Homo sapiens: one gene and its partner. The protein of the gene in region 1 purifies or fractionates together with the protein of each later gene. This does not show direct contact. Each region holds a gene or a part of one and is shown in the gene's direction. Other genes may lie near its edges.

Region 1 (3,826 bases):
CTACACCTGGCTGCACTTGGGAGTCATCTTGGCAGCGTGGCCATCACCTGGCAGGTGCTGCCCAGGGTGAAACAAAGGGGAGGCTCTAGCAGCCAATTGGATCAAGGTTTCTGCTGTTGTTATACTGAGAGATTTTATTCCTTCTGGCATCTGTCACTATTCATACTGTTATTGACAGTTCTGGGATTGTGAGCTTTCTTCAATGTTTTGTGAAGAGGAAACATGACACGTAATGGAACCTGTATAGATAGGCACAGTCCTCCTTTTCATAAAGCACTTGTATGATTTCATATCAACTGTGTCTGTCTCCCAGATGATGTATAAATATTAGTAGTATTAGAGGTTAAGCTGTAGGTAATGTGGGGGAAGCCAGGACACAAATCCCAGACTTTCAACTCTTAACTTACTTTTTTGCTTCGTGTGTCTGATACATTCTGTGGTCATTCTGAGCAGTCTTTGTATTTCTAACTTTTAGAACTTGGTACATGCATATCTCAGAGATACTGCAGGTTTGGTTCCACGTCACTGAAATAGATCACAATATTGTGAGTCACAGAAATTTTTTGGTTTCCTAGTGCATATAAAATTTATGTTTATACTATACTGTGGTTTGTTAAGAATGCAATAGCATTATGCCTAAAAAAAGTACATATCTTAATTTTAAAAAATTGCCCAAAAATGCTAGTGGTTATTGGTTATCTGAGCCTTTAGGGAGTCATCATGCTGGAGGGTCTTGCCTTAATGTTGATGATCTGGGTAGTGATTGCTGAAGGTTAGGGTGACTGGCAACTTCTTAAAATAAGACAACAGTGAAGTTTGCTGCATTGATGGAGCTTTTCCTTTCATGAAAGACACAGCATTTTACCCACAGTAGAACTTCTTTCTAAATTGGACTTCTCAAAACCTGCCACTGCTTTATCAACTAAGTTTAAGTTCTATTCTCAATCCTTTGTTGTCATTTCAGCAATGTTCACAGCATCTTCACCAGGAGTAGATTCCATCTCAAGAAACCACTTTCTTTGCTTATCTCTAAGAAACAACTTATCCATTCAAGTTTTATTAGTCCCATCTTCAGGCTCCACTTCTAATTCTAGTTCCCTGGCTATTTCCATTATATATGCAGTTGCTTCCTCCACTTCAGTCTTGAGCCCTTCAAAGTCATCCATGAGGACTGGAATCAGCTTCTTCCAAACTCCTGATAATGTTGATATTTTGACCTCTTTCCATGATTCAGGAATATTTTTACTGGCATCTAGAGTGGTGATTCTTTCCAGAAGATCTTCAGTTTGACTTTCTCCACATCCGTCAGAGAAATCACTATGGCACCTATAGCATTAGGAAATGTGTTTCTTAAATAATAAGACTTGAAAGTCAAAAGTACTCCTTGATCATGGGTTGCAGAATGGATGTTGTGTTAGCAGTCATGAAAACAACATTCATCTCCTTGTACATCTCCATCGGAGCTCTTGGTCACCCAAGAGCAGTAATCTTCTTATAGGAATCTTTTTGTTCTGATCAGTCTTGACATGAGCTTAAAATCTTCAGTAAACCATGCTGTAAACGGATATGCTGTCATTCAGGCTTTGTTTTTCCATTGACAGAGCACAAACAGAGTAGATTTAGCATAATTCTTAAGGGCCCTGTGATTTTGGGGATGGTAAATGAGCACTGGCGTCAAAGTTACCAGCTGCATTAGACCTTAATAAGAGAGTCAGCCTGTCCTTTGAAGCTTTGAAGCCAGGCATTGACTTCTCTTCTCTAGCTATGAAAGTCCTAGATGGTAGCTGGGCACAGTGGCTCACGCCTGTAATCCCAGCACTTTGGGAGGCCAACGCAGGTGGATCACCTGAGGCCAGGCGTTCGAGACCAGTCTAGCCAACATGGCGAAACCCCTAAAAATAAAAAAAAATTAGCCAGGCATGGTGGCGGGCACCTGTAATCCCAGCTACTCAGGAGGCTGAGGCAGAAGAATCGCTTAAACCTGGGAGGTGGAGGTTGCAGTGAGCCGAGATCGCGCCATTCCACTCCAGCCTGGGTGACAAGAGCGAAACTCCGTCTCAAAAAAAAAAAAAAAAAAAAAAAGAAAGTCCTGAATGGCATCTTCCAATAGAAGGCTGTTTCTTCTACTCTGAAAATCTGTTGTTTAGTTTAGCCAACTTCATCAGTGATTTTAGCTCGACCTTCTACATAACTTCACCTGGAACTTTTATGTTATGAAGATGGCTTCTTTCCCTAAACTTCATGAACCAACCTCTGGTAGCTTCTAGCTTTTCCTCCGCAGCCTCCTTACTTCTCTCAGCCTTCATAGAATTGAAGAGAGTTAGGGCCTTGCTCTGGATTAAGCTTTGGCTTAAGGGAATGCTGTGATTGGTTTGATCTTCTATCCAGACCACTAAAACTTTCTCCATATCAGCAATAGGCGGTTTCACTTTCTATCATTTGTTGTTCACTGGAGTAACACTTTTAATTTCCTTCAAGAACTTTTCCTTTGCATTCACGATTTGGTTAATTGGCTCAAGAGGCTTGGTTTTGGTCTATCTCACCTTTCAGCATGCCTTCCTCACTAAGCTTAATTATTTTTAGCTTTGGATTTAAAGAGACATGCAGCTAGTCCTTCCACTTGAACACCTGGAGGCCATTGTAGGGTTAGCTGGCCTAATTGCAATATTATTGCGTCTCAAGGAATAGGAAAGCCAGAGGAGAAGGAGAGAGGGGAAAATAGCCCGTCAGGGTAATAGCATTTTGGTGGAGCAGTCAGGATGCATAGAACATTTATTGATTAGGCTTGCTGACTTACAAGGACACGGTTCATGGTGCCCCAAAACAATTAGAATAGTAACATCAGTGATCACTGGTCACAGAGTACCTTAACAAATATAAGAATGGAAAAGTTGGAAATACTGGGAGAATTACCAAAATGTGGCAGAGACATGAAGCAAGCACATGCTGTTGGAATAAAGGATCTGATAGACTTGCTTGGCACAGGGTTGCCATAAACCTCCAATTTGTAAATGCAATATCTGTATCTACAAGGCACAATAAAATGAGGTATGCCTGTATAACCTCAAAAAACGGGTTAAGACGTGTTAGTTTCACCTGAAACTTTTAATTTGCCCTAGCTGAAGACAAATTTGTTGTTTTCCTGTTCTTATCCTTTAATAATAAACATTTTAAAATACCAGAACACGTAAGTAATATTATCAAAGGTAAGTTGTAAAAGAGAGGTTCTCCCCCGCCGCCCCCGTGGCAATTGGATTTGCTTATACCTGTAATGTCCCTATAATGTCTAACATCTTTCTCTCAGCAAATAAATTTATTTTCAGTGTATGTGTCCTTCAAATTCAGGTGTTACTTGATTGGGCAAGACAATCATTGGTTGCATTTTATAAGAAAAAGCTTGAACTGAAGGAAGATATTGTTGAAAGGCTTTGGATCTATATAGATAACATTTTACATAGCAGAAAATTGCAGAATCTCCTCAAGAATGGAAAGACCATTAATCTTCAGATTTCCCTAGTCAAGGTAATTCACTTTTCTGTTCTGTATGTGTTGCATGCATCTCCATTGATTTCTTGTTAATGCTGGAAACTTGTTTTAGTGTCAATTGTATGAAGATATAGGAAATACTAAGGTAGGAGAAAAAGGATGTAATATTATTGGAATTAAAATAGTAACTATTGAATGTGTATCATATGCTCTAAGCATTTTGTTATTTAATATTCAAAAAAAGCTTGGAACGATTTCATAAACAGGTCATTGATTACCTTTTTAATTGGAAAAGGTAGCTAGCAAATTATGCTTCTCTGATTTGTTTTTCTTCTTCTTT
Region 2 (3,826 bases), on another chromosome or scaffold:
GATCCTTGCCAATCCTGAAGATGACTTGAGTAGAACCAGTAATTGGGTTTGAGCTAAAAGGAACTACTGGGTGGCGTATGTACATGTTTTTTATTCTCTTACTAGCATAAAATATATATAGTAAATTCAGCATTTTTTTTTTCTTTTTTGAGGCAGGATCTCACTTTATTCCCCAGGCTGTATGACAGTGACATGATCATGGATCACTGTAGTCTCAACTTCTGGTCTCAAGCAGTCCTCCTACCTCAGCCTCCTGAGTAGCTAGGACTACAGGCATAGGCCACCATGCCCTGCTAATTTATTTTTTGAAGAGACGGCGGGGGGGTCTCCCCATGTTGCTCAGGCTGGTCTCTAATGCCTGGCCTCAAGCAGTCCTCCTACCTCAGCCTCCCAAAGTGCTGAGATTACAGGTGTGAGCCACCACTCCTGGTAGTGAATTCAGTATTAAAGAGTGATTGAATTAGAAGGCAACTGAGTTTTAGTTACATCATAGGAAGGAAATGATTATAGTATTAGAATACATTTCTGTTGATTGATTGATTCATGCCAGCCCTCAGAGGAAAATGTTCTTGATTTAATTGCAATTTTAGAGAAACTTCAAGTTAAATTTTTTTATGTGTCTCCCTTGTTAAGCATTAATTTTTATTTTTATTATTATTATTTTTTACAGAGTTTTACTACCCTTGGATGCTGCTGTTGACATGGAAAAGATTGAGGAACAATTTGCTAATCTGCACATTGTTAAATGTTCCTTAGGAACCAAAGAGCCCACTTACCTTCTTGGTATAGACACATCAAAGACTGTCCAAGCAGGAAAGGAAAACTTGGTTGCTGTTTTATGTTCTAATGGATCAATCAGAATATATGATAAAGAAAGGTTAAATGTACTACGAGAATTTAGTGGATATCCTGGACTTCTTAATGGAGTCAGATTTGCAAATTCCTGTGACAGTGTATATTCAGCATGTACTGATGGCACTGTGAAATGCTGGGATGCTCGAGTAGCCAGAGAAAAACCTGTTCAGCTCTTCAAGGGTTACCCTTCCAATATTTTTATCAGTTTTGATATTAATTGTAATGATCATATTATTTGTGCTGGTACAGAAAAAGTTGATGATGATGCATTGTTGGTGTTTTGGGATGCAAGGATGAATTCTCAGAATTTATCTACAACTAAAGACTCACTTGGTGCATATTCAGAGACACATAGTGATGATGTCACTCAAGTACGTTTCCATCCCAGCAATCCCAACATGGTAGTCTCAGGTTCATCTGATGGCCTGGTAAATGTATTTGATATTAATATTGATAATGAGGAGGATGCACTGGTTACAACCTGTAACTCAATTTCATCAGTAAGCTGTATTGGTTGGTCTGGGAAAGGTTATAAACAGATTTACTGCATGACACATGATGAAGGATTTTATTGGTGGGATCTTAATCATCTGGACACTGATGAACCAGTTACACGTTTGAACATCCAGGATGTCAGAGAAGTAGTTAACATGAAAGAAGATGCTTTGGACTATTTGATTGGTGGCCTATATCATGAAAAGACAGACACATTGCATGTTATTGGAGGAACAAACAAAGGAAGGATTCATTTGATGAACTGCAGCATGTCAGGACTGACCCATGTGACTAGCCTTCAGGGAGGGCATGCTGCTACAGTCCGTTCTTTCTGTTGGAATGTGCAAGATGATTCTTTGTTGACTGGAGGAGAAGATGCACAGTTGTTACTTTGGAAACCTGGAGCTATAGAGAAGACCTTTACAAAGAAAGAGAGTATGAAAATAGCATCCTCTGTGCACCAACGAGTACGAGTTCATAGTAATGATTCTTATAAAAGAAGGAAAAAGCAGTGATAATGCATTTGGCACTTTGTTTGGTAGGTTTTATAGTTTCAAATAGTCCTTCTTGTTTACTACCCATGGTAGACATGTTTAAAGCTTTATGTAAAAACAAGCCAGTTAGCAAACAGTCCTGGAAAAATATGGTGAGAATGGTTTAATTCCGGTCTTCACATATTCTAAAAAATTTTAAAGCCTCTAAGTATAAAATCAGTGAGTTGAAAGTAAAATTTCTTATTTAAAGAACCCATCTGTTAATGTAGTAAATGTTGGCTTTAAAGAAATAGCTCCGATAAGGACTTTTTAGAAGGAAATACTTGGTAAAACTTAATAAAACAGGTGGTTGGCTGCATTTTTTAAGCCCAGTTTTTTACATTTTAAATTGTCTTTATTGTGTATAAAACCAGATTAGACTATATTCTTCATCTGAGGAGCATCTATATGTTTAATACACCTAATGTATTATGCTGGAGTATTTAAATGTAAGTATTTTAATGAGTAAATAGAATTAACCTTTTTTACAAATGAAATGATAGGCATCTATGTAAAGTGAGAAAAATATGTTTCGTAAATATTTGCATCTTTAATATTGTTAGTAAGTAGTAAACAGGTGTTTTGCTGATTGAAAGGAAGTTATCTTGGTAAATTGAGACTCAAAGTGAAATACAAAAATGAAAATATTTATAATAGGACTCGACTTGGAGAAATTGCTATTCTTCCTGTTGTCCAAACCATAAATCTGAGGATAACCTGGGCTTTTCTCTTTCCTCTTCTCCTAACCAGTTTTTCACCAAGTCCTGTGCCATTTCACCTCCTAACGTCTGTCAGCTATCCTTTTGCCTTTACCTCACCACTATTACCCTAGAGAAGACTTTCATTATTTCTCATCTGGATTACCAGCTCGATCTCTAATCTGCTTCAGTTCATCCTTCTTGCTACTTCTAGGCTAAACATCAAAAACAGATCTGGTAGGGGCGGGGAAATGAGGGGGAAGAAACAAAAACGTGATGGTGCCTCATGCTGCTTAAAATCTTCAGTACATTGATGTTTTGATGGCGGACTACATAAGCGTTAAAAATTGTGTTTTTCAGAATCTTTAAAATATAAGACAGTGCTATCTAGTGAATAAAAAAATTAGTTTGAAAGATATCTGGAGAAATCGCATTCATAAAACAATTGGAAGTGAAACTATTAAAACAATAGGGCTTTTTAAAATTAAAAATATTTAAAATTCAAAAGTAATTAATAGTGTTGGAAGATGTAGGTGAGAAAATATTCCTGAAAGTAGAACTGAAAGAGACAAAGAGAAAAGATGAAAGCCACAGAAGATAAATACAGGGGTCAAAACCAGACTAACAGTTTTAGAAAGTGAAAAAAGTTAAAAAAGAAATGGGGGCAGTGGGTTATTAGAAATAACATAAATGGCTGGTATGGTTTGTCTGTGTCCTCACCCAAATTTCATCTCGAATTGTAATCCCCATAATCCCCATGTGTCTAGGGAGAGACCTGGTGGGAGGTGATTGGATCATGGGGGTGGTTTCCCCTACGATGTTCTCCTGATAGTGGGTGAGTTCTCACAAGATCTGATGGTTTTATAAAGGGCTCTGCCCCTTTAACTCCTCACTCTTTCTCCTGAAGCCTTGTGAAGAAGGTGCTTTGCTTCCCCTTTGCGTTCCCCCATGATTGTAAGTTTCTTGAGGCCTCCCTGGCCATGCTGAACTCTTCAGTCAATTAAACACTTTCCTTTATAAATTACCCAGTCTTGGGCAGTTATTTATAGAGTGTGAAAATGGACTAATATAGTGGCTATTCCAGAACTTCAATCTTTAGATTGAAAGGCACAGCAGAGTGTCAAGTGTAATGAATGAAAAAGATCCACATCAAGGCATAGCACTGTGAAGTTTCAGAGTAAATAGAAAATCCTGCAAGTGTCCGGAAAAAAAAAATCACTTAGGAACAGATTTACAGTTGTGTTA

What was found.
Region 2: the proteins of URB2 (region 1) and WDR89 purify together in Homo sapiens (affinity purification with mass spectrometry; one large-scale study listed by BioGRID and IntAct). This does not show direct contact.

The regions. Positions count from the first base shown.
Region 1 is NC_000001.11:229,628,924-229,632,749, forward strand, and holds part of URB2 (unhealthy ribosome biogenesis protein 2 homolog), read left to right. Parts: intron 1-3,345; coding exon 3,346-3,522; intron 3,523-3,826. UniProt on the Homo sapiens protein: Essential for hematopietic stem cell development through the regulation of p53/TP53 pathway.
Region 2 is NC_000014.9:63,596,818-63,600,643, reverse strand, and holds the end of WDR89 (WD repeat-containing protein 89), read left to right. Parts: intron 1-670; coding exon of another isoform or gene 671-701; coding exon 702-1,865; 3' UTR 1,866-3,605; downstream 3,606-3,826.